Linked DNA regions of Homo sapiens. The protein of the gene in region 3 interacts with the protein of the main gene of each other region in a pairwise test. Each region holds a gene or a part of one and is shown on either strand. Other genes may lie near its edges.

Region 1 (10,145 bases), on a different chromosome or scaffold from region 3:
AGAATTGACACTGAAGCAGCAAACAGCACTTCTTGAGCCCAGATTTTGGTTTCTGACACCATTCTCCAATAAAAGAAACCAAGATTTCTGAAAGATATGGCTAATTCTAGGCCTGGGGCATGATGACCCCAGAGCATCTTATAGTACTAGAAAGTAACCATGTGCTTAAAAACAAAACTAACCAAACAAAAAACCATACCACATTGATGGGAGTATATTAAAAGGAAATAGGACAACTAAGAGAGCTCCAGTGGCCAAAGCTGGGACAATTTGAACAACAAAGTAGTATTAGATTATAACTCAAAGTATAAAACAAATATTTATATGTCCATACTCATATACATAAATGATTAAATAAAAAGGGAGAAAAGACAAATCTCCCATGCAAAAAAAAAATGCCACATAATTTATCTACATATTCCACCAGCAAAAGGAGAAGCAGAAATCCCCACTCTTTAAGTGTGGGCTGCACATAGTGATTTCCATCCAAGGAGGATAGCATAGAACGGGGGAAAATGGTAACTTTACAGTGGAGAAACTTGACAAACACTATCTCATTCAGGTGATAAAGGTCAACATCACCAGTGATAAATCATGTTGATAGTATGAATCCTTGATAGGTAATGTGGTGCAAATTACTAAACCTCTAGTGGCCTCTAAGGGTAGTGATCTACTGTAATGGTCTTTTTCAAATGTTAAATATAATACATGCAAAATGTCTACCACCAGTGCCTGGCCCATAATAGATACTGAAAAACAGTATCCATAATTAAGAATTAAATGTTTGAAAAGTGCTCTAAATTTTTGTTTTCAAAATGATTGACTGAGGTGTCATTGATGTAGTAATACCTCTTAATTATTTTATAGACTTTTACAAATTTATAATGTGGTTCTTTCTATTTAGATCTTTGCATTGTGGAGCTAATATTGAAAGCATTTGTGTACATTATTATTTTGTTATGGCTGCATTTGTTAGTAAAGCCTCATATTATTTCTGCTTCTGTCTTTCTGTCTTGAGTTGGCTCAACATTGCCTCAAAAAGAATCATGCAAGAAAAAAGTACATGCTGGGCTAGACTTCAGAGTACTCTTAAATGCTCTGAGATTTCTGCTTACTACTGCCCTATTAAAGCTGTAAAAAAGAATCGGGATATCCAACTCTTATCTGTTCTTAGGATGTCTCCTCTGTTGTCAATGCATGATTTCAATACCAATTTGCAGGTTTTGACACCAATCCTTGTTAATGAGTATATAGTATTTAATGTTCAGTAGAGATGGTAGATGACACTGACAATATTGCATTATGAAGAAACTGGAGTTAATAGAATGCTTTAAGACATCAAAAGATTAAATGACACAACTGTTTGCTAGATGCAATTTGCCTAGGAGGTTAAAGGCATACTTTTCCTGCTTCTCAAAAAGCAATTAGAGCCAATTTGTGACAACCTGAATATGTAGAAGAAATTGTTTTTGTTTCAAAACTAAAAAACAGGCAACTTGGATATTCCGAATTTTTGCTTGTAGGTTTAGAAATCACTGGCAGTGGCTTGTTTAAAAGCATCTTACGGCCGGGCGCGGTGGCTCACGCCTGTAATCCCAGCACTTTGGGAGGTGGAGGCGGGCGGATCACAAGGTTAGGAGACGGAGACCATCCTGGCTAACATGGCGAAACCCTGTCTCTACTAAAAATAAAAAAATAAAAATAAAAAAAATTAGCCGGGCATGGTGGCAGGCGCCTGTAGTCCCAGCTACTCGGGAGGCTGAGGCAGGAGAATGGCGTGAACTCGGGAGGCGGAGCTTGCAGTGAGCAGAGAGCGCCACTGCACTCCAGCCTCGGTGACAGAGCGAGACTCCGTCTCAAAAAACACACTTGACTTTTGCCTCTTACCTCTTTTTGTCATGCTTTCCTGTGTTAATCAGACAGACTGGACACTGCTGCTGAGGAATCAAACCTTTTGCAGTAACAGTCACAGATGCATCCCTTACGATAGCTTGCTTTGTTTTAATTTCTGATAGCCAAAGAACCAGGCATCTCAGATCACCCTGTCCCAGGTTTCCTCTGTAACAACTGATATGAATAGGATGTTTTTAAGACATGGAATCTGTATCAAATTAGGTGCTTTTTTTTTTTAAGCTAGCTGTTTCTATAAGCATTCTCTTTTCCAACTATATAACTCCTTAATTTCCGTAAGTCTCTTAAATAGTATACCTTATTCGCTTTGTTGCTTCCCTTCCTAGGAAATTAACTTTGACTCATGCCCAAGATGTATTTAAGAAAGTGAAGGAGGCCAGGTGTGGTGGCTCATTCCTGCAATCCCAGCACTTTGGGAGGTCAAAGCCTGAGGATCTTTGAGGCCAGGAGTCCAGAGACTAGTCTGGCAACATAGTGAGAACACATCTCTACAACAAATTTAAAAAAAGGAAAAGAAAAAAGGTGAAGGAAAAGGCATAGCTCACAATTTTGTCCTAAACTTTTCTGTAGCATTCTAGTGGAAGTAACAATTGTCATACACTTCAACATTCCAGTGGCAGAAGTGATGTTCCTATTAATTGGAAGACAAGAGAACACACAATGGCCAACTTTTAAATAATTTAATCTTTCAACACCAAGGATTTTGTTTTTAAATAGTTTTAATTAGGTCTTTTCCTTTTAGTGTCTTTTAGGCAATGATTCACCCATTCATTTATTCACTTAAGAAATATTTATTGAGCATCTACTCTGTGCCATCTACTATTCTAGTATTTTAGGTACTAAGGAAACATTGAACAAAATGAAAAAAAAAAAATCCCCGATCTTGTGGAGCTTACATTCTAGCGGAGGGAAGGCAATAGAAAATAAAAATAGAAAATGACGATGTTAGAAGGTTAGAAGGTAAGTACTATGAAAAAAACAGAAGCAAGGAAGGGAGGATTCTGGGGAAGGGGCAATATTTTAAATGAGATGATTAGGGTAGGCTTCTTTGAAAAAAGATGACTTTTAAGCAAAGATTGGACAGAAGTGGAAGATCTAGCCATGCAGGTATTTGGTGGAAAGATCTTTGCAGATAGAAACTATACACAGTGTAAGGGCCTCAGGGCAAGAAGATGCCTTGGTGTTACAGAAGCAGGGAGCAGGTCTGTGTAACTGGAACAAAGTGCTTAGCAGAAATGAGGTCAGAGGGGTGGAGGTGAGGTAGGACTTGGGAGGCCAGCTAGCATAGGATTTTTAGGTTGCAGAAAAGACTCAGGCTGAGAAAATTAGGAAGCCATTGGAAGAGCGACTACTTTTGGTTTCCTTGTAAGTCTGTAGACAAACTTCTGAAAGTTAAAGGCATATTCATGTCATATCACAGATTGGTTCAATACTCAAGTGTCAACACTTAATGCCTTGCTTCTAGAAAAGATAAAAAGATGTAGTAAATAAAACTGAATACTCAAGCCAGACAACTACATTGCTGTTTTAATTTACTAGCTGGTATCTTAAATATTAATGAACCTCCTTCTCTGTTTTCTTATTTACAGGTTGGAACACTATCTTTTTCCAGGTTCCTTGTTGTCTCTAGTATCTCTTGGTATCCTTTGATACCTCAGTCCAGGTAGGATTTCCATGCTCATTTTCTATTTGTGGCTTCATCTGTCAATACCAGTAACACATTTTATTGTATTGCAGAGGTCAGAATTTTGCTGGTCCAGCAATGTGGAAATGATGTACAAAATGCAGATTAAAACAACAAGAAAAACTACTTTGCTTCAATTAGTTGAATTGAGCAAAATCAGTTTTTCTTGAATTTTTTGCATGACTGCTTAAATGAACCGTTTTGTTTCCTTGACACGATAGAGATAATACAAGGTTTGCAATGCCCTTATTGTTTTGAGACTGTAAGAGTAATACATTAAGTAAATTTCATTTAGCACAACAGTACTATTGTTAAATGGAGGGAAAAGATTCTGGTAAAAGGGAAGAAACTCCTGGCTTTAGTTTTCTAAAATGCTTTTGTACCTCTTGTAAGAATGACATGGAGGTGTTTTTAATGTCAAGTCTGAAAATTTGCTTTTCAATTTACTTGGAAACTGGTTTCTAATACAAAACAGGGTAGCACACTTTCCCAGCATGTTCAGGTAAACTACTTTCATCACAATTCAGGTAGAAGTGACTGCCTTTAATTCCGTACATCGCAAACCATCTAGTGGTAGATCTAGAATGGCGTCAGTCTCAGGGACTTCTATGCACATTGAGTTCCAGAGTTCAATTCCATTTAAGTTGGGACTATTTACAATGACATTTGCTGAAATTTGCTCACCTTGATATACAAGCATATTGTATTAAGCAGCTAGTAAACCTGTGGAGATAGCAGGTAAAACGTAAAGCCTGTTTTACGTTTTTTTAGAGGTGCATTACTTGTAGCATAACTAAACCTTCATTGTTAGGCAGGTGCTGGCCAATTACATCAGCAAGTCCTAACTCCGCTAGGATCGGGGTAAAGCCGATAAGCCGCATCATATCTACAACCTGTCTCGGACCCCTGTAAAGAACTCACTGAGGATTGGTAGGGACAAAGGGAAGTTTCTGTCAAAGTTTAGGAGAAAAGGGCCGCGCAGGGAGCTGTTTCAAATAACACTTAAATCCCAGGAGAAGAAAGCCGAACCCCAACTCTTCGGTCGCCGCGGGGCCAGGGAGACGCGAGAGGGAAGTTTTTCTAAAGGAAATCTGCCGCCTTGTCCCCAAGACCAGCGAGGTCCGCAGCGCCATCAGTCAAGTGTCGGCCTCTGGCATTTTCTCCTCTCCCCAGGGCGGGCCAACGCTAGTGGGCGGTGGATGATGCGCCGGCCCCAAGGGCGCGCACGTCCATTCCCGGAAGGCTCGGGCGCTGGGGCCCCTCTGCACTCCCAGCGGTCCCAAGTTGGCCCAGGCGCCCGGTCCCGGGGTCCTACAAGTCAGCGCCAAGCCGACTGCCGACAGCCTACCTCCGCTTCTCCGCGCGCCGGCGCTATGGAGACGGTCACGAGACGCCAGCAGCCCCTGCGCCCGCCAATGGGAACGCACGTTGCAGCGAGACGCGGACGTCGCTCTTCCAAGATGGCGGCGCGTCCGTCGCGAGCGACCGGGCCGAGGGGAGGCCAGCGAAGCCGAGTAAAACCGCCGCCCGGGAGAAGACTGAAGGAGCAGTTGCCGCCGTTGGCGGCGGCCCGAGCAGTTTTCGCTGCTGCTACGGCTGTTGCCATGAGGCGAGGCTAGGGAGGACCTCACTTCCCCGGGGTGTAATAATGTTAACTGAGGTAAGCGGCGACGGTGGCCAGTGTTTACCTGTGAAATGGGGAAGGGGCCGGCGCCAGCCCGTCAGAGAACATCATCTGTACGGAAGGTGGGCCTGACCCTTCGCCGTGGGCTCCAGGGCCCGAGGAGCAGCGGGGATCCTACAAGTGCCCTCAGAGTAGGAGCTGTGCTGACTCAACAGAGTCCCACCACCTCCGGCTGCCAGTGCCTCGCCTTTCGCAGTTGCCACTTGCCACTCGCCCCTGGCACTGGTCTCCCTCCTGCTGTCACTCCCTTCTAACTCATCGCTCCCTTCTTCGTGTCCCCTTACACGCTACTCTGTGGCAGCGTTGGCCTTTCCACGTTACTGCTGGTTCTTGTGATCCTATGGTTTGCCCTAGGTCTCCTTTCTCTGGTCCCTGGGCTCCAGGGCCCTCCGCCTCCGAGCTCGGTCAGCACCCTGGGGTTGTTGCTCGGCCCGACCGGTTTGTTTCCCACCCTCTACTTTGACTGCTTCATGAAGTGGACTTTTTTATCTCAAGCTGCACATGTATGGCTCAGTTGGGTCATCCCCCTCCCCCACATCCATCACCTTTTCGGTTAAATCGTGGTCATCACAAAGTTCAGTTTAGCATCTGCCACCTTGATTTGCGTGTGGCCCCCTTGTTACTCCCTATGGAATAGTTTTTTTCTTTGGACCTGAAATGGAAGTAGGGCAACTATGACGAACCAATCAATTTCCCTTTTCTAGTGCCTAATGGGCATTGCAAAAAGCCGACTTTTTGAAGAAGTAGAGTTTGCCTTTACTAGCAACACTTTAAGGGGAAGAACTAAATCGGTGCAACTAGGTACTTGACCCAGGTTAGCCCAGTTATGTGTTGTAGTATCTGCAGGTGTAGGTGTCACTGAACATAAAATACTGAACCTTGTGATTTGATGAAATACCTTTTTCGAAGCCTTTCACTTTAAGTACTGTGAGGATCCTGACGTGAGGAACTGACCGGATTGGGCATTTTTATGGGCTGAACTGAATAGGAAACAGTTTTAGTGGGCAATGGGAAGTATTCCTACATGGGCCAAAAAGGAAATACAAACATTTGTAGGTGAGTGGCTTTTATTTTGTGAAAAGTGATGGTAAAGCACGTACTTGCCTGAAATTTCAGGTCCTTGGAACGTGACTAACTTTGAGGAACTTTATACTTTGCTGTTTGTACTTAATCTAAGCACAGAGCCTGGCATATGATAAATACTTACTGGTTGATTGTAACTTCTACAGTACGTATTTTTAGTTGTTTGAAGTTCATTTTATATTTCTAAATTCTACAGATTTTTCATTCTTGGAGTTAATTGAGATTATGGTTATAGCATAAGTTTGTGTTGTGATTAGCAGTAATAGATTAGAAAAAAGAGTTATAAGTAGCAGAAGTTTCATTTTTACCTTAAGTGTGATATTTTAGTGGGAACAGTTAGCCTTATAATAAGTGTTTAGTGTTGTCTCTAATGTGTAATATTATATGATATGATCTTTTCCTTAAACTTAGCTTATGTTAACATGTTTCAGAGTTTTAATACTTTCAAATGAACTACTTGTGTGTCTGCCAGTAAAATGATTTGGAAAGATGGAGCTTTCTCAGCTTCTGTATTTTAATGCAATTTTGCGTTTTAGGGAAATATTTTAAACAGTAAATCAATGATAATATTAAGTAAACTGTACTTTAGTACTTTTTGTGTGAACACTGCACAACTTATAAGTGGCAGAAGCAGGATTCCAACCTTGGCAGTTGCCACCTAGCCCATTCTGTTAACTTTTCTAGATTGCCTCGCCAAAGTAAGACCCAGATTAAATTGTACTAAAGTCTTCCCTATAGTTTTCAGTAGTCGTTTATAGATTAGGAAACTGAAGCCAGAGACTCTTGTCCAAGGTCAATTATTAAATATTAGTGACAGTCGAAACTGGAATCTCATCTCCTAACTCTCAGTAGAGAGCTCTGACCGTTTTGCTCAGCTGCCTCTCAAGTAGTTTTCAGCTCTCTTGATAGATTTTAAAACATGCTATTGTACTTCCTTGTCTGAATATTGTCAGTAAACTGAAAATGATTATTACTTAAAAAAGACTTTCTGCTTTACCTTAGCTTTTTTTCCTTTTCATTTTTTAAACAAGGCTTCTAAGCCTCGTAAACTAGTCCTATTTTGAGATATTTTAGATATAAAATTTCACTCAATATTGGCTACTACAAAATTAGTGTGAGACTTCCTTTTTATTGCTTCTGCTAGACATTGCTGACTTAGATCAGCAGCTTTTAGGAGATGTGATTTAATTCATGTTAGGTCTCAAAATGTGTAGTGATGAGCTGTGCTATGAAAGATTCTCCTGTCTTTATATTAGTCATGCTCAGCAAGCATTTACTGTGCTCAGAAAGTGGTGAATTGTAGTATGTGCCTGGATTCTTTACATCTCAACACTGAGGTAGGTGATATCCCCATTAACCAATGATAAAACAGGTTGAGAAAGTTGAAAGAGCTTACTTAGAGTTGTATAAAGAATGGAGGAGACAGAAATCATATTTAGGTCCTCTTATTCCACATTGTGTGCTTTTTATGACTCAGTGTGGAATGCATCATTAATTTTCTTTGTAGCTGATAAAATCAGCATACTATTTTTATTTTTTTTTAACCAAGGTGAGGATACTAAGTACATAGATACATAATGAGAATAGTAATGATAAGTGTTCATATGAAACTTTTCAGTTTTGCGTTTTGTGAAAATATATCTTTTTTTTTTTTTTTTTTTTTGAGACGGAGTCTTGCCCTGTTGCCCAGGCTGGAGTGCAGTGGCGCGATCTTGGCTCACTGCAACCTCCGCCTTCCAGGTTCAAACTATTCTCGTGCTTCAGCCTCCCAAGCAGCTGGGATTACAGGCGTGAGCCACTGCACCGGGCCAAAAATATATCTCTAATTGAAACCTTTTCAGAAATGAGAAGCCACACAAGTGATCAATTAAGGACCATTTTATATTAAGCTAAAATGGAATATCACTCAGTTGAGCAAACTAATATGTACATTGAACTTTGAGCCTATGAAATATAGATTAATGTAAATTGAAAGTATAGCTCCCATATAGTTCTCGATGTAAACTTTTTGGCTTCAATTTATATTATTTTATCTTAAATACAATGGAATTATTTAGAAAACTTGCTAGTCATATTTATGTATGTATTTTTTTTTTTTTTGCATTTTACATACAGGGATGAGCTGTATGTAACGTCTAGCTAGTTTTTTTTTTTTTATTTTATTTTATTTTTTTTAATGTTAGTTTTTTTCCCCTTCTGTTGTCCTTGCTCCTGTTAGGACTTCCTGCTTCTAATGTGACTCCTGCTATACTTGGCAAAAAATTTGTCATAGTGTACATGAAAGTTACTTGTTTAATATTCACTCCTCACTCTCCCTCTATCCCTTCTTTTTTTTTCTTTTTTTTTTTCTTTTCCCCTAACAGTAAACTTCATATATCGAAATTAGAGCATGGGATGTTTGTTTACCTGAGAATTTGTTTTAATTAATCCGAGTTTTCACAACATTAGAAGATAATGAAATATTTATCAGTGAATTTTTATCAAACACACTTTTAAACTTTTCTTGATACCAGGAGCAATTAGGATTATAATTCTGAGCATTTATTATTACAGAAAACTAAAGGTAAGAAATGTGGGAAAATGTGCTGAATACATTCCAGTGTTGTGGCATACTTTGGAGGTTGTTTTTGCATGGAAACCAGTTATCAACGTGTTGTCACTTGTCCTGTGTTTTAAAAAATAATAAACAGTGTAGCTATTTAAAGCTATTAGTTGTTTGAGTTGTCTGTAAATATGAATCATTAAGTGACTATTAAATAAAAATAGTTTCTATTTGTGTTGTTACTTCCATCCAGATTTGTTGCTTTTTCAATATTAACACTGATTCTCAGAGTTAACAGATCTGATATAAATGGGAAAAGGCAAAAAATGCAGCACTTTGAGAAGTTCCAGGTTAATAGTTGTTAAGTAAAAGGTTTTGTAGTTGAAATAAATTTGGAGGATATTTGCCTAAAGAAAGTTAATAGGTTTCTTCTCTGGATGACTTAACATAGTTAGTTTTTGATAGGTGATTTATTTTCAAAGAAGATGATAGAATTTACAGCATATTGCAGAGTCATTTAACCATGGAGGTGAATACACTTTCTTGTATTTCACTTAGGGAAATCCTGGAGTGATGAGTTACGTATCAAGAAAGGCTCCCTGAACATCCAGGGGTCCTTTTGAACACACACATGCACATACATCATACATCCACGCTCACACACAGTTGTCTTGCCCATAAGTGCTTAGTAAAATATTATGACTTGGTTTTGTTGATTAATATATTTGTAATAGAAATACTCTTGGGGCACATTAATCTTTAAGCTATATAAGCTATTTCTTCAATTATTAATGACACTGCAAGAGCTACTAACCAAAGCAAGAAGACCATAGGTCCACTGGCATTCAGAGGTGTCAAGAGGTAGGAAAGGGATTTTATAACGGGAGTGGAAGGACATCAGTATCTAAAATGAGTTTGGCTTGCCACTCTACACACAGCCTTACTTGGCATCTTTTGACAAACCAAGAGGAATATTGATAAACATTCTTAAAGAATTTTTTCTTTTTAAATATTATTTTAATTGACAGTCATTTTTATGCATTTATGGGGTACAGGGTGATATTTTGAAATGTGTGTACAATGTGGAATGATTAAGTGCAGCTGAATAACATATCACCTTGATTATTTTCTATGGTGAGACAATTGAAATTTAGTTATTTAAAAAATAAAATACATGATTGTTGACAGTTGTTTAATTGATCTAAAAATTTCTTCCTTCTATCTATCTGAAACTTTGTACT
Region 2 (10,189 bases), on a different chromosome or scaffold from region 3:
GGGCCTGCGTCCAGGGCCTTGAACACCCCAGTCCACAGTGGGAAGTAATGGGAAGAGTGGAGGGAGGAGCACGGGTCATGAGGGTTCCAGACCCAGCCCCCAAATATCCATGAGACTCGGGCCTGGCTGCACCATCCATGGGGCTGCTTCAGCCACTGACAGCCACTTACTCACCTGGGCCATGTGGTGCGGGTATAGGACTTTGAGATTCTCTGCCAGGTGGATAGGCTCTAGGGACACCCAGGTGCTCTCTATGATGGAGACTTCCACGGTGGCAGTGGCCTGGTGGCCTGAGGCCTGGTCACCCATGTCCTTGACCTGTACCAACAGCTGGTAGGTCCTCTCCAGGGCGTGGTCAAGGCTGGTGCTCCCTAGAACAGGGAGGATGGTCAGCTGAGCAGGCAGCCAGGGAGCAGGGGCCAGGGCATCATTCTCAGCAAGATACCAGACACAAAACCAAGCATACAGCAGGTGATTGGGACACTCTCTTGGCCAAGGGAAGAGAGGAACTTTAAGCACTGTTGTGAGCCTCCAACAAGGACATGACAGTTTGCAAAGCCACCTCCATATCTCTCCACACAACGAATGCGTGATAGACTAGAGAGGTAGGTGGATGACCAGGATGAGGAGATGGGTAGATGGCAGATGATGGGTTGGTTGGATGAATGGGTGGTTGACTTGGTAGGTGGATGGGAGTTTGAGTGTGTGAATAGGAGAGTGTTTGGATGAGTGATGGGAGGTTGGATGGACTGTGTAGGTTGTTGGGCGGTAGACGGGTGAATGCGTGGCTGGCTATGATGATGCCTGATTCACTTTTCTTTCCAACCCTAGTTCATGCCTCTGGTCTGAGCTTCCAGGTCCAGGTCTCTTCCGCCATCAGTCGCAAGGTTGCCCAGCAGCATCTTAGGCTACAACCCCTTAGACTGTTCCTATCTTTGTCCCTTAGGCCCAGGTCTCCGTGGAGTGTGGAGCTGAGGCCCTCCATTCACACCATTTCCTAGCTCTCCATGCCTGGCCCTGCCTCCACAGCCCCCTGCCTTGTTGCTGTCTCCACCTAGAGTGCCCTTCCCTCCCTTTTTACCTCTCAAGCTCCCACCCATGCTTGTCTTATGGTTCAGATACCACCTTCTCCAGCTTTCTCTGACCCTCCCTCCCCAGCACACCCCGCTCGGGCTTACCCTTGGGGCTGAGGGCCAGAGCCCCCAGCCGAGGCTCCAGCTGGAACATGTCTGGGGAAGGCTGGGCTGGAGCCTGGCTCAGGATGTGGAATCGAAGATCCGAGTTGGCTGTGCCTGGCTCATCCCGGTCTGAAGCCTCAAGGAAGAGGAAGGGGATGCCTGGTTCACGGTGGGAGGGCAAACTGTAAGGGATAGAGAGGGTGGGGAGAGTCTCCCATGCCTCTCCTATTTCTCCTCTGTCCTTTCTTCCCTATCCATTATCACATCAGGACTCCGGAGATGAGCCACGGCTTTTCGTCCTACTTCCCAGATGAGCAAACTGAAGCCAAGAATGGATGGCACCCTCAGTGGAGTAGGGAGGAACAAGGTGGGACAGAAATGGTACAGGATGGGCCAGGTGCAGTGGCTCATGCCTGTAATTCCAGCACTTTGGGAGGCTGAGGCAGGCAGACCACCTGAGGCCAGGAGTTCGAGACCAGCCTGGCCAACAAGGCGAAACCCCGTCTCTTTTAAAAATACAAAAAAAATTAGCCGGGCATGGTGGCGGGTGCCTGTAATCCCAGCTTCTTGGGAGGCTGAAGCAGGAGAATTGCTTAAACCTAGGAGGTGGAGGTTGCAGTGAGCTGAGATCGCGCCATTGCGCTCCACTCCAACCTGGGTGACAGTGAGTCTCCATCTCAAAAAAAAGAAAAAAAGAAAAGAAAAAAGAGAAAAGAAAAGAAAAAAGAAATGGGACAGAAATGGCTGCCCTGTCCTATGCCAACTGTCTGGCCATCTCTTCGCTCTCTGCTGTTCCATCAAGGCCCACCTGACCTTACTGTAAATTGGCTGCCCTGGTCACTCACCAGGCCTGGTACCCCGGCTCAGCCGAGCTCTGTAGATGGCTTGAGAGAAATGGGGCACCTGGTCATTCTCATCCTTCACGTGCACAAGCACAGGCTGTGGACCCCACAAGACATGTCCATCCTGCATCTCCAGGGTGACCTGGCAGGGAAGGGGAGTCAGCGTCTGGCTCTGCCTTGCCTGCTCTCCCCTACACCTGGCCCAGCCATACCTGTAGCTGGTACTCTGCCTGCTCCTCTCGGTCCAGGGCCCTGGTCACCAGCAGGAAGCCAGAATCTGGATCCATAGCAAATGGGCCCTCAGTTGCCTTGCCTGAGTCCCCTGACAGCACGATCTGGCCTTCAGCCCCCTCACGGGGCAGCGGCAACTGATGGAAATGAACAGAAGTGAAGGGAGCGGTGGCCAGGCCTGGGAGATGCCCCTCCTCCACCTGATGGCCTCATTTTACATGTGGGGAAACTGAGTCTCAGAGACATCTGGCTCCTGTCAGAGGTCACACAGCCAGTAAGCATCAGGACTGAGACTCAGAGCCAGAACTCTTTTCCCTGGACCTGATGCTCCCCAAAACTCTCTGCCCTTCTTTCTGAAGCTTGAAACCTCACCACCGAGATTTCGTTCTTTAATCTAAAGCTCTGCTCTCCACTAGGATTAAAATCTGTTAGTCATTCCCACTGCAGGTTGAGCATCTCTAACCCGAAAATCTGAAATCTGAAATACTCAAAATCTGAAACTTTTTGAGCGCCAATATGATGTGACAAGTACAGAATGCCGCATCTGACCTCATGTGACAGGTCACAGTCAACACATAGTCAGAACTTTGTTTCATGCACAAAATCATTAAAAATATTCGCCCAGGAGCAGACTCACACTGGGCTCTTGGCCACTCAAGGATTCTGTCGGAATTTCACCTCTGTACTGTCAGCTCCTTCTGGCCATAGCCTCCCCAGCTCGCAAATCCCAAAGTGGTAATCCCAGCACTTTGGGAGCCCAAGACGGGCGGCTCACCTGAGGTGAGGTGTTCAAGACCAGCCTGGCCAACATGGCGAAACCCTGTCTCTACTAAAAATACAAAAAAAAAAAAAAAAAATTAGCCAGGAGTGGTGGTGCATGCCTGTAGTCCCAGCTACTCAGGAGGCTGAGGCAGGAGAATCTCTTGAACCCAGGACGTGGAAGTTGCAGTGAGCTGAGAACATGCTACTGCACTCCAGCCTGGGCGACAAGAGCGAAACTTCGTCTCAAAAGAAAAAAAAATGTATAACGTTACCTTCAGGCTATGTGTATAAGATGTATATGAAACATAAATGAATTTCCTATCTAGATTTGGGTTCCATTCCCCAAGATATCTCATGATATATATGCAAATATTCCAAAATCTGAAGAAAAAAAAAAATCCAAAATCTGAAACACTTCTGGTCCCAAGCATTTCAGATAGGGGACACTCAACCTGTGTAACGTGTACATACTCTCTGGAAAGCAGGATTTCAAAGAGAAACAGCAAGAGGAAGGGTGCCAGAGGAAGGAGAAGCAGGACTTTGCGGGGAGGGATCCCCCCGGCCCCAACCCCAGCTCTCCGGCTCACCTTGGTCAGGTATAAAGGGAAATTTCCACCATAGTTTTCTGGAACTTCCACAGACAGCTCTGCAGGCTGGGCCTTGGGGAGAGCCTGTGGGAGGATTCTCACCTTGTCACCAGGCTCTATCTTCCTGCGTGGGCACTGAGACCCAACAGAAGAGCGGAATTTCCGCCCCTTCCCAGGGCCTGGCTGTACCTTAGTCCATCCACCCGCGCTCTGGTCTTTGACCTCCTCATCCCACAGTGGCTCTATAGTCCCAGCTCTGACCCCTCCCATGCCTTGCACCGTTCTCACGGTCAGTGCAATTGGTCCAGGTGGAGTTGGGGGCAAGGGTGTCAACCCCCAAAGCCAAGACCTGAAGGAGAGGGGGCAGGGCCTAGCTCACCTGGGGGACGGAGACACAAAGCAGCCACAGCCAGGCAGGGACCATGGTCAGGACAGGCCTGAGGGACACGGCAGTGAGGATCCAGCCCAGGTGGGTAGGGAGGGGCTTTCCATCCCACACACACAACTAGTGGGATCGTACTGCAGACTAGTCTTCTCTTCCTCCCCTCCAAAGGAGCTGAGGCTCTCCATCTCCTGCAGGGTAGTGCCCTGCTCCTCGGCCAGGCCCACCAAGGCCCCCAGGCCCAGCCACCCTGCTTCTAGGCTCTTGGTCCATCAAGCACTCTATCAGAATTTCACCTCCAGACCTCCAGCTCCTTCTCACCATAGCCTCCCCAGGCCGCAGATCCCAAAGTGGTAATTTTCTAGCAATCCCCCAAATCACAAAAGTTTGAAGCTGGAAAGTTCCTGAAGACTTGGAGGGTCACTTCCTGAAGTCACCTCTTGTTGCAGGCAAGGCCTGAATGCTGGGGTCTGGCCAAGGTCACAGAGGACTTGACCACAGGAGGAGTCCTCCTAGCTCAGGGCCTCTGGGACTGTCCTGCCTCCCACTGCCACCTTCTAGACAAGGAGAACCCCCGGAGCAGGAGCCCGGCCCTTGTCTCATCATTTTCCAGCCCTTGTCATGGAGCTGGGCAGGCAGAGCAGCGACAAATCGACAACCCCTCTAAGATGAGGCCCTGGGAATTCTTTCCCAGATGGCGAGGACAGGGCAGTGTTTCTCCTTTCCCCACCACCAACCTCAGCCTCAGCCATGCCCTCCCCTCCACTCCCAGCCCCTCACCCTCCAGCGCCCAAGACTGGCTCCCTTGGTCCAGCTGCCAAGCAAGAAGAGAGCTCCTTCTCCAGGGGGCTCTGGCCAGGCTGGGCTGGGTGGGGCAAGGCAGGGCACTTGAGCAGGTAGGAGGGTTCAGCCACGCTTGCTCAGGAGTGGAAAAGGCCACTGGGCCCACAGCAGCAGGCCTGGCCCCGCCCAGCCCCCCAAGTTACTCATTGACTTTGGAAAGCCAGGAGCTGCTCAGCATCCGTGACTGCCAGCTCCAGGAGGTGGGGAGATGGTTGGCCTGGCACTCCCTCGACCCCAGCACAGCCCAGGAGGTATTCCTTGGCCCTCTGGTTCTGGACGTTACTTTTTCTGTGGCTCCAGACTTGGTCTGACTTATCTCCCAGGCTCCAGTGTCTGCAGCCACACCTTTTCACACTCTGTTCCTTTTGCATGGAACACCCTTCCCACTCATTCATCTGTGTGGTAAGCACCTGCTCATGCATGCTTCAGTGCTCAGCTCAAATATTCCTTTTTCCAGGAAACTTCCCCTATGTTCCCAGGCTTGTTCAGGAGCCTCCTCTGGGAATGCCCCTCCCCCTCACACCATGCCATGTGCTATCTCTATTAATACACAGAGGACACCAGCTTGTCATTGTCTGCCTCTTCCATTAGATTGGGAGCCCTTTGAGAGCAGAACTCAGGGACTCAGGAATGACCTGGCTCTCATTCTGCCCTGGCAGCTCCGCATGGCTTGTGGAACTAAGACAAGGAGCTGGAGGTTGCAAAGGATGGGTGAGCAGTACATGAGTGGAAGTGGGTATTGGGGCTCCAGACCACCCCCCCCAGGGGGACCTGTGGTGGGGGAGTGCAGCAGCCTATGAGCTCCCGAAGTCCTTACACTGGCCACTCAACAGTGACAGGGCTGAGACAGTGGGCAGTCTCATGCCCCTAAGAAGATTAAACTGGCTCAGGTGACCTTGAGGGAGTTGCAGGGCTGAACAGGGGCTCTCCCCGCAATGAGGGCAGCCAAGCAGAGCCAGGAGATGCTTCTGGGGCCTGGGAGTCTGGAATGAGGGGAGAGGGTGGGAAGAAGGTCTCCAGTCCCTCTCCAGCCTTGGAGCTTCCCATGGTCCCCACGAAGTCCTTCCCACTGTACATCTGATTAGTCTCTCTCAGGCCAGAAGCTACCCCCAGCTGCCCCCAGCCTTGTCACAAGCTGAGTGCCTGCTTCAGGGTCACTCTGGCACCCAGCCTGGAGCAGTGTAGTGTGGGGAGGTTGAAGGGGGTTTCACACGTGTTAAGCTCCTGCTCTGTGCCCAGCACTGCTCTGAGCACATACCTTCATTATGCCACATACTGCGTTCTGAAGGGGCATTGGGCACATGCTGGGGCACAGAGAAGCTGAGTGGTTTGCCTAGGGTCACACAGTCAATAAGTGACAGAGCCAGGAAGGCCTGGGGACCCTCACTTGATCTGAAAATACCATGCCTTCTGCATTCCTTGAAGTATGTGGGGAGGAGGGGCAGAGCAGCAACAGCTCTGAGCAGTTACCTCTGCCCTGGGGAGCACGTGGGTGAATCTCAGCGCTCCCCTGTACATGGAGGGGCAGCCCTCAAGCCTCCTCCTGCCATTCAATAAGCTGCAATCAGGATTCTAACCAGGTTGCCAGGGCTCCCTGGAGTCTGTGGAATGAATAAATTGAATAAATTGAACTAAGGAAGGAATGTATGGACCTTGGCCCAGAACCTTCTTAGAAACTGCCCCCCACCTTGCCCCAGGCTGCCTCCAGGCTTTGGAGATGGGCAGACCTGTATACCAGTCCCCACTCAGCCACTTCCCACCCAGCACCAGATGGGGATGGTTTTTCCTGAGACCATGTAGATAAAAACTCTTAGCAGCACTTGTGCCGAGGGTGAGGGAATGAATAAATTGAATAAATTGAACTAAGGAAGGAATGTATGGACCTTGGCCCAGAACCTTCTTAGAAACTGCCCCCCACCTCGCCCCAGGCTGCCTCCAGGCTTTGGAGATGGGCAGACCTGTATACCAGTCCCCACTCAGCCACTTCCCACCCAGCACCAGATGGGGATGGTTTTTCCTGAGACCATGTAGATAAAAACTCTTAGCAGCACTTGTGCCGAGGGTGAGGGAGCCATGGGCATGGGTGGGCAGGGAGACAGGTGCATCCCTAAACATAAGCACGAGTACACCTTCCTATACAAATGCAAGACCTCTCATTCCAGGCAGGGCGGGCTCCCGGCAGCTGTTCCCACCAAAACTGAATTAGCCAATGCTGAGCATGGAATGTTCTGGCCTGGATACTCATGGTAGAGAGAACAGTGAGTGCCTCCTCCGTAGCTCAACCCCAGTGAAGTGGTGGAGGAGCCATGTGGAGCTGTGTGTGCCTTCACAAACCACCCCTCGGAGGTCTCTATCCCCAACCTCAGCTGATTCCAGCCCCTCAAGAGGGAACAGGGCAGAAATACCAGCTGTGGAGCCAGATCCTGTCTGGTTGTGAGACCCAGGGTTCCTGCCTGGTTGTGAGACCCAGGGTTCCTGCCTGGTTGTGAGACCCAGGGCAGAATGTGCTCCCCTGAGCAGCCTGTTTCCCTTTATGGACAGTGAAGTGATTGAACCCTCAATCAGTTGGGCAACGCCAGGCCCCAGTGCAGAAAGAGAAGAATCTGGATAACAGGGACTGGGAGGGGTTTGTGTCTCCTGCTCCTTGAACCTCTAACCAGACCCGATGCCCATCCCAGCTGGCTAAATCTGGACCCTCACATTAACACATCATGGCCACACACTAGGGTGGGGCAGTGAGCCCCCATCCCTCAACTTCAGAAATCCTTCCAGCTCCTGAAGCGCCCAGATAGGAGGAAAGAGAGTCAACAGCCATGACTATCAGGAAATAGCCTTTATTACAAAAATCTGCATGTAAACAAATAGCTACCGCACTGAAGAGCCTCCCTCCAGGGCAGGCACACCCGGGCTGTGAAAAAAGGCAGAGTCCTCTCCCGGCACGCAGGCCTGCCCGGCGGCTGCGCTGCGGCTGCTTGGGACGCATATGAGCCTGCGCATGCATCTCTGTGGGCCCAGCCCTCACTGGCCCCTGAGAGCCACTTCGCAGGGCAGCACTGTCTATCTGTCCATGACCATGAGGTTGGGGGTGCCCGGCTGGCAGCTCCGAGGGACCCAGAGTCTGAGCCTGCTCTGAGGCACCCGGGGCAGTTGGCTGGGCCAGCCCACCAACCCTTCCGTTCGTCTCCCACCATAGTGGGAGCGGGTGGGACCTAGAGAACCGAGAGGTCGTGGCAGGACTTGGATTTGGCGCGAAAGGCCATCTTGCGGCTGTTACGAGCTACGATGCGGCCCAAGAAGCGCTTCGCCTTTTTGCCAAGGCTCTCTCGCCTCCGGGTGCCTGCTTGCCGTCGTGCGTTGGCTTCTTTGCTGTCCCTGCGCAGGCGTATCTGGCGCACGACACCTTCAAACAGCGCCTGGACATTGTGGTGCAATGCCGCTGATGTCTCAATGAACTTGCAGTCAAAGACCACCGCGCAGGCCCGGCCCTCTGTGTGGGTGGGGAAAGGCAGGCACCAGTAAACAAAGGGTGGGTGAATGAGGAGTCCCCTCCAACAGTGGCCACCCATGGAAGCTGCCACTCGAGAATTTGCAAGGTCCTCCCCGAAAACACAGAGACCCCAGCTCCTGTACTGAGGGTACTGGGCACTGCTGCGTCACCCAGTAGGCAGAGTGCCTGCATTTAAGGAGCCCCCAAAACAGTGGCCCTCAAAAGGAGATCCATTTATTGAAATAATTTGAAGCCTGATATTTAAACAAAGTACGACAGTAGTAAACACAGGAAAATGAGAACTATGTTGGACAACTTAGTATTTTATTTTATTTTATTTTATTTTTCTGAGATAGAGTCTCGCTGTCTCCCAGGCTGGAGTGCAGTGGCACAATCTCTGCTCACTGAAAGCTCCGCCTCCCGGGTTCACGCCATTCTCCTGCCTCAGCCTCCCGAGTAGCTGGGACTACAGGCGCCCGCCACCACGCCCGGCTAATTTTTGTATTTTTAGTAGAGATGGGGTTTCACCATGCTAGCCAGGATGGTCTCGATCTCCTGACCTCGTGATCCACCCGCCTCGGCCTCCCAAAGTGCTGGGATTACAGGCGTTAGCCACCCCCTGGCCCATGCCCCGCACAACTTAGTATTTTTTAATTCGAGGTTATATCATGATGAATGATCCAGTGGACTGGGGTTGCGGAGGCAAGGTCACCAAGTCACTGCTGGGTTCCTCTGAGGGGCTCAGTACTGGGGTCCACAGAAAAGGATGCTGAGGCCAAGTGGGAAGGGTCTTCCCCAGGGCCAAGTCTACTCTAAGAATGGCCCAGACCTAGCACACAGGCTCTGACCTCCTGGCCTGTTCCCCTACACTCTCTTCCACCCATTTACCCCCCCAACCAGCCAGGCCAGGACCAAGAGGGGCAGGAGAGGAGGGCCCTGCGGTGCCCAGCTCCCCTATCAGATTTGGTTCTTTCCCCAGCCCTCTGGGGCCTTCCGGAGCCCTGTGAGCAGGCACCAGCTCTCTCCCATTTCCCTCCCCGCCAGTTTTCTTTCTGAACATTTTTAGCCTCTGATGATCCCCAGGGACTCAAGCTGAGCCAAGACTGCCTGGATCAGGGCCCAGCTGGGCTCTCCCTCCCCCTGCAACCTGCCGCCTACTCACCATCCACCGAGACCTCACGAGAGCGCACCAGGTCGCTCTTGTTGCCCACGAGGATGATGGGCACATCATCTGTTTGCCGTGCACGCCGCAGCTGGACCCGCAGTTCTGAGGCCTTCTCGAAGCTGCCCTTGTCCGTCACTGAGTACACAATGACATAGGCATCCCCCATGGCCATGCAGTGGCCGGGCAACCAGCGGCCCCCGTCCTGGAGAACACACAACACACATCTGCCCAACAGTCCTCATGCCCCCGACACGAGCCTGGCACTCCCAGACCTCTAACCCAACTCACTCCTCCCTCCCCTGCCCTGGGTCTCTGCTTGCACCCTACCTGCTCCCAAATGTCGTAGACCATGAGTGATGCCTCTTCTCCGTCCACTACAATGGAGCGATCATAGGTGTGCCCTAGGCAGAAGGCCAGTAGACAGGTTACCAGCTGGTTGTCAAAGCCGCTGCTGCCAGGTTTCCTGTTCTGGCCACACCCTCCAACTCTTCCCCAGAGCCCTCCTTACCCTCCACTCCACTTGCAGATGCTGGTATGTGGCAACAGCAGTGCCAGGCAGGGAAGTGGGGGCTGGAGGGCATGGTGTGCCTGACCTCCACCCACATGCCCCCCCTGGGGACCTTGGCCACCTAGGGCTCCTCTCTTAGAAATCCCTCTGGTTAGAAACTCTGACCTGTCCCTGATAGGCAGGGAGGGATGTCCAGTCCCATCC
Region 3 (10,245 bases):
AGGGAGATATTTCATGACACTTCCTTATGTATGTAACTTTTGCATTTTGAACTGTTTGAATGTATTATCTTTTTTTTTTTTGAGACAGGATCTGGCTCAGTAACCCAGCCTGGAGTGCAGTGGCGCAATCTCGGCTCATTGTGACCTCTACCTCCTGGGATCCTCCCACCTCAGCCTCCTGAATAGCTGGGACTACAGGTGTGTGCCACCACATCCAGCTAGTTTTTGTATTTTTAGTAGAGACGGGGTTTCACCATGTTGCCCAGGCTGGTCTCCATCTCCTGAACTCAGGCAATCCTCCCACCTCAGCCTCCCAAAGTGCTGGGATTACAGGCATGAGCCACCGTGCCTGACTGTATGATCTATTTAAACACAAATAATGAAGCCCAAGATTCTGAACTCCAGGCAGGCGCGGTGGCTCACACCTGTAATCTCAGCACTTTGGGAGGCCAAGGCAGGCAGATCACATGAGGTCAGGAGTTTGAGACCAGCCTGGCCAACATGGTGAAACACCGTTTCTACCAAAAAATATAAAGAATTAGCCAGATGTGGTGGTGCGTGACTGTAATCCCAGCTACTCGGGAGGCTAAGGCAAGAGAATCGCTTGAACCTGGGAGGCGGAGGTTGCCGTGAGCCGAGATTATGCCACTGCACTACAGGCTGGGTGACAGAGCAAGACTCCATCTCAAAAAAAAAAAAAAAAAAATCCTGAAATCCATAAAATGGCAGCTATGTGACTTTTTTTTTTTAACCTCAAGAAGTATTTGTCCTGGAAGAATGCATATGGAACTACAGTTTGAAACTTGGACTTGCATATACCATGGGTTCCCTCAGGCCTCAGGGAATCTTGCATTTCCTCTGACATCAGAGAATGCACTCCAGCCCCTAGGACGAGCCCCCCCCAGGGAAACATGGCCTGCATTTCCATCAGAATTGCTCTCTGTAAGGATGTATATAGCTTCAGATGCTTGTTCTGTATCCTCTCTACTTTGAAACAGAGTATCTCAGACAAACCACTTCCCCTTTAAAAGTACTAGATATATCTTTCACTGTGGAAATAGGTGTCAACCGCCAGTCAGGATGCCTTTTATCCCGTGATGGTGGAATAGTGATTTCTCACCGAAATCAGGGAGAGCCACTAACTCTGGCCTCTATCAACCCAGAGAGATTGCATGGTTCTTCAATGGAGATCAGATGTTTGGAATAACACTTCATCTTTTTATTTTTTAGAATCATGCGGCTGGGTGTAGTGGCTCACGCCTGTAATCCTAGCACTTAGGGAGGCCAAGGCAGGCAGATCATGAGGTCAGGAGTTCGAGACCAGCCTAGTCAACATAGTGAAACCATGTCTCTACTAAAAATACAAAAAAAATTAGCTGGGCATGGTGGCGGGCACCTGTAATCCCAGCTACTTGGGAGGCTGAGGCAGGAGAATCACTTGAACCGGAGAGGCAGAGGTTGCAGTGAGCTGAGATTGCACCATTGCACTCCAGCCAGGCAACAGTGCGAGACTCCATCTCAAACAAACAAACAAAAGAAAGAAAGAAAGAAAGTGGCCAGAATGGGAATGTTTACGTGATAGAAATTGGCAAATGCTAAACTCAGGGCTTTCCCCTGCTCCCCAGAGAGTCAGTTTATCAGCACTGGACGTAACATAGTTCATAAGAGCATTGCCGCGGAAGCCAGCCTGCCTACCTGGGCTTCCATCCTGGCTCGGCATGTACTAACCTTGTTGGCCTAATCATTTAACTCAGCACCTTGGTCTCTGCATCTACTGTTTCTGTAAATAGCAGTAACTACCTCACAGAAAAGCACATAGCACATGGACTGGCACACACTGTTTAATAAATGTTAACCCTGATTATTATTAAGCTGCCAGAGATAACCTATTTGTAGATTATAAAACAGAAACTCAGATAATTGATATGACTTGCCAAGGACATGTAGTTGGTGGGTGGCAGAACGAGGGCTGGAGCCCAGTTCCCAGGGTGACTTTTCATTACCCCACAAAACAGGCTGTTGAATCATCTGTGTGTTTCCTTTTTTCATACAGCATACATCATCTATCTTTTTTTTTTTTTTGAGACAGGGTCTTACTCTGTTGCCCAGGCTGGAGTGCAGTGGCATGATCTTGACTCACTGCAACCTCCTCCGCCTCTCACCTCAGCCTCCTGAGTAGCTGGGACTACAGCACCAACACGCCCAGCTAATTTTCGTAATGTTTTTGTAGAGATGGAGTTTCGCCATGTTGCCCAGGCTGGTCTTGAACTCCTGAGTTCACCCAGGAGTGATTCGCCCACCTCGGCCTCCCAAAGTGCTGGGATTACAGGTGTGAGCCACCATGCCTGGCCCCATACATCTTTCTTTATGTTACCTCTTCTGCTTCATACTAATAAAACTCTTTGCTCAAAGCCTATATAACTCAGACTTTTCACGAAATTCAACTGTCCTACCCTTTAACCCATATGAAATAGGCTTTCCTGTATTTTCAACTCACTGGTAGGATTTTTTCTGTCTTCCCCCTTTATGTAGATGATCCAAAGTCAGAGAGAGGGGTTGGAAGCATGAGTAGCCCGTGGCTTCCTGAATAGCCTGGGGAAAGCAACTTCTGATGGACAGACATTGCGAGAGCGAATGCCAGCCTCTTTTCTTGCTGATCTCCTCTCTATATGGTTCTTACCACTTAAAGACGAGGTTGAGCCAGTCTCCAATCACAGCTACCCAAAGGAGTTTAATGCCCACAGCTTCCTGAAGATGGAACCAGATGGGGAAGAGGACGTAGAAGGCATTCCTGAGGTCTGCGATCACGGACACCAAGATGAACCAGTCCTGGGAGTCTTGGTAATTCACCTGGAGGTAATGTGTTGACTGGATCCCAAAGTCATGGAGAACATTCATTCCTTCCTCCATCCTCATTTCCTTGGCACCTCAGGAAGATGTCAGCAGAGCCCTTGCAGTTATTCCAGGCTTGGTGGTGATTGCTCTGCTATGAGTCTGTGCCTTGCCCCTGTTTTATATGCCCTGTATCCAGTATTCAGGTCAACCCAGCCCTGATCTTTGGACTCAAAAACCACGTTTGTCTAAAATGTATTGATCAAAGGTGCATCACCAGTAGGTTGATGCAAACATGTTCAGGGTGATTTACGTAAAATAGAAAAACAGGCACACAAAAACAGCCTGATCGGCCATGTACTCAGCAGGGCCAATGATTAACTTTGGCATGCTTCTTGGCAGTGCAAGGGTCTGCCCTCCTGGTCCCCGAAACCAGGCCAGAGACACAGGACAGAGTCTACATCCACGATGATTCTTGCAAAGATGTCAGATTTTCTATGCCTGCAACTGCACTTATTTGGGGACAAAGAAAAATCTTGGTGCTCTAGCTATTCAAGTTTTAAGTTCTTAATTTTAAAATTAGTAAAGTTCTGGCTGGTTGTGGTGGCTCACACCTGTAATCCCAGCAATTTGGGAGGCTGAGGTGGGAGGATCCCTTGAAGCCAGGAGTTGGAGACCAGCCTGGGCAACAAAGCAAGACCCTCGTTTCTACACAAAAATTTAAAAAATTGTTTTGGTGTGTGTGATGGTGTACCCTTGTAGTCCCAGCTATTCAGGAGGCTGAGGCAGGAGGATTGCTTGAGCCCAGGAGTTGGAGTCTGCAGTGAGCTATTGTCCCACCGCTGCACTACAGCCTGGGCAATCGAGCAAGACCCCAGTCTCTAAAACAAAACAAAACAAAACAAAACAAAACAAAAGAAAAACAACAAATAAAATATAGTAACTTCTATTGTATTGGGGACTATCATCTTGCTGGTCTTTCCTTAACTGTATTAGAGTCTAGGGTCTGCCTCTGGTTTGGGAGATCAACCCCCTTCCTGGTATTGGCCTCATGTCTCTTAGGGCCAGAAAGTAATCGTTTTTGAATGCAGTGATTAATTCATTTAATGACCTTAAAGTTACAGCCCTTGGTGTTGTTTTCTTTTTTAAATTTTCTCTCTCTTTTTTTTGAAACAGGGTCTCACTCTGTCTCCCAGGCTGGAGTGCAGTGGCATAATCACGGCTCACTGCAGCCTCAACCTCCTGGGCTAATGTGATCCTCCCACCTCAGCCTCCTGAGTAGCTGGGACCACAGGCACACGCCACCATGCCTGGCTAATTTTTCTATCTTTTGTAGAGATGGGGTTTTTCCATGTTGCCCAGGCTGGTCTTGAATTCCTGAGCTCAAGAGATCTGCCAGTCTTGGCTTCCCAAAGCTCTGGGATTACAGGTGTGAACCACCATGCCTGGCCAAGTGTTTTAACTCATACGTTTAAGCAAAATAATGAATGTATAGTCTTACTGTGCAACAATATGATGAATGTATGGTTCCAAATAAGAATACCAGCAAAATGGTAACTGGAGACTTAAAGAGTTTGAAACTTTCAGTTATTTTTGAAAAAGGGCTTCTATATCTTGAGCTTTCTTATACATATGTGTGTAGATATACAAAAGAAAGCTCAAGATACACTGTGTGTGTGTATATGTGTGTGTGTGTGTGTGTGTATACTATATATCAGCCTACAAATAGTAGAGAGACCAAAACCCTAACACTTGGGTCACGGAGGACTGTGAAAGGAACCAGGGAATGAATCAGGTAACGAACTCATGCATTTTAAAAAATAGGGCTATTTAATCATGCTTCATATCACTATTATTTATTATTTATTTATTTATTTTTGTAGAAACGGGGTCTCACTATGCGGCCCAGGCTGGTCTCAAATTCCTGGCTTCAAGTGATCCTCCCGCCTCAACCTAGCAAAGCATTGGGATTACAGGCATGAGCCACTGCCTCCAAATTCATGCATTTTTTGAGGATAAGAGCCAGGGGGAATAAAATGTTTAAAAACTTGCCTGAATTTCCCATCATTAAGTCCATATTGACATGTAAGGGGTAGCTGGGGACAGAAAAAAGAAACTCAGAGCTAATGAATCTGTGGCAAAAGTTGACAGCATTCCATGCTGGAAATGATTAAAACATCCTCCAGGAGGTATGACCTGGAGTCTCCTCCCCACCCCACCAAGGGCTCGCACCCAGCCCATGCTGACTCCAGTTGTCCTTGACTGCATGGTTTCTGCTGGTCCAAGCAAACTTCTCCTGCCACGCCTAACCTTGGAGAGCAGGTAATGTGTTGGTGACTGTGGGTGGGTGTAAAGTAAGCCCATGCGTGGCAGGCAGTGCTGGGGCGTGGGGTATATGTGATCTGCACTGTCAGGGCTGCTGGGCCATAGGTAGGGAGCCTCCCTCTACCCAGATAAGCCTCTGTTGTGGAGTAACTATTGCAGTGACCTCTGGGATGAGAGTTTCTATGGTCAGAGGTGAGTCAAGGTGAGTCTAAAAACATATACAAAGGCCACTGTCTGGGTCATGCCAGGGCAGCTAGCAGCCAGGGTCTCTGAGTTGGGAGGGGTTCTATTATGTGGTCAGCATATGGGGAGGGCCCTGTTTTCTGAGACGCCTCAGGAAGAATACCCCTATGGATAAGGAGTTGATAAGTGATGGAGTTGACATCCCACTCTGGGCATCCAGGGACAGTGGGAGTCTTCCTGGCGGTGGGCCACCAGGCAGGGGGACCCTCTGGATCAGAGCAACCTCATAGTCATGAGACGATGAGCTGGTCCTCATCTTTCCACCTGCCAGCCCCTTTCTGCTTCCTCCAGCACGTTTTTATCCGTGGGAAAACAGGTGAGGCCCCAGCTTGTTAGAAAGCTGACTGCATCGAGACACCGTGGATTCTCAAAGGTCTTGTGGATATATGAGGCGAGTGGCTAGAAGTTTTGCTGAGAATCCACTCATTTATCTGTTTATTTGAGACGGGGTCTCACTCTGTTACCCAGGCTGGAGTGCGGTGGCACCATCACAGCTCACTGCAGCCTCAGTCTCCTGGGCTTAAGGGATCGTTTTGCATCAGTCTCTGGGTAGCTGGGCCTACAGGCGCACACCACCAAACCCAGCTAACTTTTTATTTTTTGTGGAGATGGGGGTCTCTCTACATTGCCCAGACTGGTCTCAAACTCCCGGCATCAGGTGGTCCTCCTGCCTTGGCCTCCCAAAATGCTGGGATTACAGGTATGAGCAACAGTGCCCTGCAGAATCCACTAATTTAAAGAACTATCTCCAGAGAGGGGTTCCCGCCATCTCCTTCTAACTCTTTGTTATTTTCCCTTTTCAAGAAGTGCTCCGGTTTAATTCAACCAACATTTCCTGAGCAAAGCACCATGCCTGGCTCTCTGAGGAATTAAAAGTTAAAAGCCAGGCTGGGCATGGTGGCTCACGCCTGTAATCCCAGCACTTTGGGAGGCTGAGGAGGGTGGATCACCTGAGGTCAGGAGTTTAAGACCAGCCTGGCCAATATAGCAAAACCCCATCTCTACTAAAAATATAAAAATTAGCCGGGTATGATGAGGGGCACCTGTAGTCTCAGCTACTCGGGAGGCTGAAGCAGGAGAATCACTTAAACCCGGGAGGTGGAGGTTGCAGTGAGTGGAGATCCTGACACTGCACTCCAGCCTCAGTGACAGAGCGAGACTGTCTCAAAAAAAAAAAAAAAAAAAAAAGTTAAATCCCAGGTGTCCTCCAGGACCTTGGTGGTCTAGTGGGACAGGGTGACCTGACATTTACAAAACTATGTAAACTGGAGGATCCTTATGTGAGTGACTACCTACAAGTTCGCTGAAAAGTCACTGACATAAGGCAGATTAATTAATATGAGAAAAAGATTACAAATGTATTTAACATGTATACATGGGAGGCTTAAGAATGAAGATCCAACTTCCCAGTGAGGTATGGAAGCTCATCCACCATCTTGAGGTTGCAGAAAGAATGGGTGGCTTGGATCCTGTTAAAAACAGGTTATGGGAAGGAGGAGAAGAGGAATTCTGTCGAAGGGCAGAGGGAGAATGATTGGATCGAGGAACAGAAATTAACTTGTAAATAGTTCTCCCTGGATTTTAAATGGTCCTCAGAGACAGTCATTGTCTTGAAAAAGGGTCTGTTGAGACTTTTTTATGGTTACATTTTTGGTCTTCTTTTCTGTGATGGATAATGGGATAAAGGAAGGAGAAGAACAATTGTTCTTTTGTGTCAGTCCTTTTTTTTTTTTTTTTTTGAGACGGAGTATCACTCTTGTTGCCCAGGCTGGAGTGCAATGCGATGATCTTGGCTCACTGCAACCTCTGCCTCCTGAGATCCACCGATTCCTGTGCCTCAGCCCCCCAAGTAGCTGGGATTACAGGCATGTGCCACCAGGCCCGATTAATTTTTGTATTTTTAGTAGAGATGGGGTTTTGCCATGTTGGGCCAGGCTGGTCTCGAACTCCTGACCTCAGGTGATCCACCCGCCTCGGCCTCCCAAAGTGCTGAGATTACAAGCATGAGCCACCATGCCCGGCCAGTCCTATCTTTATAGGTGAAAGATAGGGGAAAAAATCTCTTCCAGGCTCCCAAGGGTGAAAAAACCTCTCAAGGGTTTTTTATTTAAAATAGTCACGGCCTGGTGCGATGGCTCACACCTGTAAACCCAGCACTTTGAGAGGCTGAGGTTGGTGGATCACTTGAGCTTAGGAGTTTGAGACCAGCCTAGCCAACATGGTGAAACCCCATCTCTACAAAAAATACAAAAATTGGCCAGGTGCAGTGGCTCACGCCTGTAATCCAAGCATTTTGGGAGGCTGAGGTGGGTGGATCACCCAAGGTCAAGAGTTCAAGACCAGCCTGACCAACATGGTGAAACCCCATCTCTACTAAAAATACAAAAATTAGCCAGGTGTAGTGGTGGGCGCCTGTAATCCCAGCTACTCAGGAGGCTGAGGCAAGAGAATCCCTCGAACCCAGGAGGTGGAAGTTGCAGCGAGCCGAGATCACACCATTACACTCCAGCCTGGGTGACAGAAAGAGACCCTATTTCAAAAAAAAAAAAAAAAATAGCCCAGTGAGGTGGCTGGCACCTGTAATTGCAGCTACTCGGGAGGCTGAAGTGGGAGGATCACTTGAACCCGGGAGGTACAGTGAGTCGTGATCGTGCCACTGCACTCCTGCTGGGCAACAGAGCGAGACCCTGTCTCAAACGAACAAAAAAAGTACTTATTATATTGGGAGCCATAGTTTGGGATGAAATATTTTGATTTCCTTTGTAGAAATATCAGTGAGTTCCCTATTATTTTGTCCTCGGTAGAGAAGATTCGTTAACACCCTCTAGGGAAATGGCCAGCTGAGTTGGGGAAGGAATGAGGATGGAAAATCATTTGGGCTCCTCTTTGGTAGGTACCCAAGCAAGCCACTCCTCAGGCATTTTCCCCACAACTAGAAATCCAGAGGCTTTGGATCTTGAGAAGAACATGAAGGAAAGATGCCAGGAAGTACAGTCTGGTCTGCTGATGAGTAAGTGCAGCTGGGCCCAGGGCCCTGGCACATTCTCCCAGGGCAAGGTTGACTCATTCACTCGAACAAGTTTATTTGCAGACGAGAAAGCAAAGAGGGAAAAGGAGCTGTAACTTACCACACACCTCATCCAAAAATTGCATTTACTACCAAAAAGAAAGTCTGATTTTACCTGAAGCTGTATCTTCTATTCTGGGTGGGGGCTCTGGATTCTGTTGAGAGAGGAGCCACCTTTCCTTTACTCAGTTATCATCCTACAATAGGTTTGTTTTGTTTTGTTTTGTTTTGTTTTGTTTTTGAGATGGGTCTCACTCTGTTGCCCAGGCTGGAGTGCACTGTTCCCATCAATGCTCACTGCAGCCTCGACCTCCTGGGTCCCAAGCAATCCTCCCAGCTCAGCCTCTCCAGTACCTGGGACTACAGGCCGGTGCTACCACACCCGGCGAATTTTTTGTATTTTTTGTAGAAACAGGGTCTCACTTTGTTGCCCAGGCTGGTCTGTAACTCCTGGGCTCAAGTGTCCTCCTCTGTCAGCCTCCCAAAGTGTTGGGATTATAGGTGTGAGCCACTGTGCCTGACCTAGAATGGGTGTTTTCTACATACTATAGATGGGATTCGAAACCTAGCTCCAGTTCACAGCTTCGTCCGAGCAGCAGGGCTACAGCCCAAAGTGCAAAATGTACAGTTTTATTTTTGTTTTTAATTACTTTTCTTTTGTATGCTTTTTTTTTTCCCTACCAAGTGATCAATGGAGGAAGTGTTTCATGGTGGACATGGGAAACTGGCCAGATCAACTGCTGTCACCTTCTAAGTGAGTGACCCAGTTTATGTTTTAGAAAAACATGTTGAGAAAAACAGGTGGAGGGAGAGGCGGGTTAATCATTGTTCGCCAGTGCAAAGGGCTGGCTTCTCTCTGGCACAGTGAGAAAGTTCAGCTTTAGGACCTTGAACTGAGCAGGTAGGGGAAGCGTGGAGCGTGTCTCAGGATGGGCTGCACATTTTGTGCACAGAAGAAAACCTGAAGTCATTTGCCGCATTGTAAACATCTCAGAACTCCCCACTAGATACCTTCCTCCTGCCATCCCAGGGCCTGCCTTCTTCCAAAATCAAATGAGTCACCAGAACCTTTATGGGAAGCACGAACTGCCCTTCCTCTTCTTCACCTCGCTCTTCCTTAGCCCCCTTCCCAAAAGAAGCTGTTGTTCCCTCCAGGAAGTAACCTGTTTCCACGAACATTTAACTAGTTCCCTCACAAACAGATGGTAGACTTTTCTGGTTTTGTTTTGTTTTTTGTTTTTTGTTTTTGTTTTTGAGACAGAGTCTTGCTCTGTTGCCCAGGCTGGAGTGCGGTGGCGTGATCTCAGCTCAATGCAACCTCTGCTTCCCAGGCTCAAGCTATTCTCCTGCCTCAGCCTCCCGAGTAACTGAAATTACAGGCGCGTGCCACCACGCCCTGCTAATTTTTTGTATTTTTAGTAGAGACGGGGTTTCACCATGCTGGCCAGGCTGGTCTCAAACTCCTGACCTCAAGTGATCTGCCTGCCTCAGCCTCCCAAAGTGCTGGGATTACAGGCTTGAGCCACCGCGCCCAACCTCTTCTCCCATTCTTAATCAACCCTTTGCAGTGCCAAACCACCTTTGCAGTTAGAAAACATTTTTGCTGTCAAATTTCATCCGTCCTGCCAGGAGTTAAACTTTGTTGATGGCGCACTACAGAGGCAGAGGCAAGGGAAGGAAGTTAAGAAACATTCTTGCTGTCAAATTTCATCCTTCCTGCCAGGAGTTAAACTTGCTGATGGTGCACTAGAGAGGCAGAGGCAAGGGAAGGAAACCTG

Evidence for each region.
Region 1: the proteins of G6PC1 (region 3) and SNX13 interact in a two-hybrid assay, tested with the Homo sapiens proteins (one large-scale study listed by BioGRID and IntAct).
Region 2: the proteins of G6PC1 (region 3) and CDH16 interact in a two-hybrid assay, tested with the Homo sapiens proteins (one large-scale study listed by BioGRID and IntAct).

Annotation. Positions count from the first base shown.
Region 1 is NC_000007.14:17,935,394-17,945,538, reverse strand, and holds the start of SNX13 (sorting nexin-13), read left to right. Parts: upstream 1-5,044; 5' UTR 5,045-5,243; coding exon 5,244-5,255; intron 5,256-10,145. UniProt on the Homo sapiens protein: May be involved in several stages of intracellular trafficking. May play a role in endosome homeostasis. Acts as a GAP for Galphas.
Region 2 is NC_000016.10:66,914,042-66,924,230, forward strand, and holds the start of CDH16 (cadherin-16 isoform 1 precursor), read right to left. Parts: upstream 4,845-10,189; 5' UTR 4,763-4,844; intron 4,038-4,762; 5' UTR 4,025-4,037; coding exon 3,980-4,024; intron 3,685-3,979; coding exon 3,601-3,684; intron 2,389-3,600; coding exon 2,233-2,388; intron 2,163-2,232; coding exon 2,024-2,162; intron 1,361-2,023; exon of another isoform or gene 1,338-1,360; coding exon 1,179-1,337; intron 372-1,178; coding exon 175-371; intron 1-174. Other genes in the region: RRAD (GTP-binding protein RAD), read right to left, coding at 8,035-8,312, 9,475-9,679, 9,805-9,878. UniProt on the Homo sapiens protein: Cadherins are calcium-dependent cell adhesion proteins. They preferentially interact with themselves in a homophilic manner in connecting cells; cadherins may thus contribute to the sorting of heterogeneous cell types.
Region 3 is NC_000017.11:42,893,542-42,903,786, reverse strand, and holds the start of G6PC1 (glucose-6-phosphatase catalytic subunit 1), read right to left. Parts: upstream 2,989-10,245; 5' UTR 2,911-2,988; coding exon 2,681-2,910; intron 1-2,680.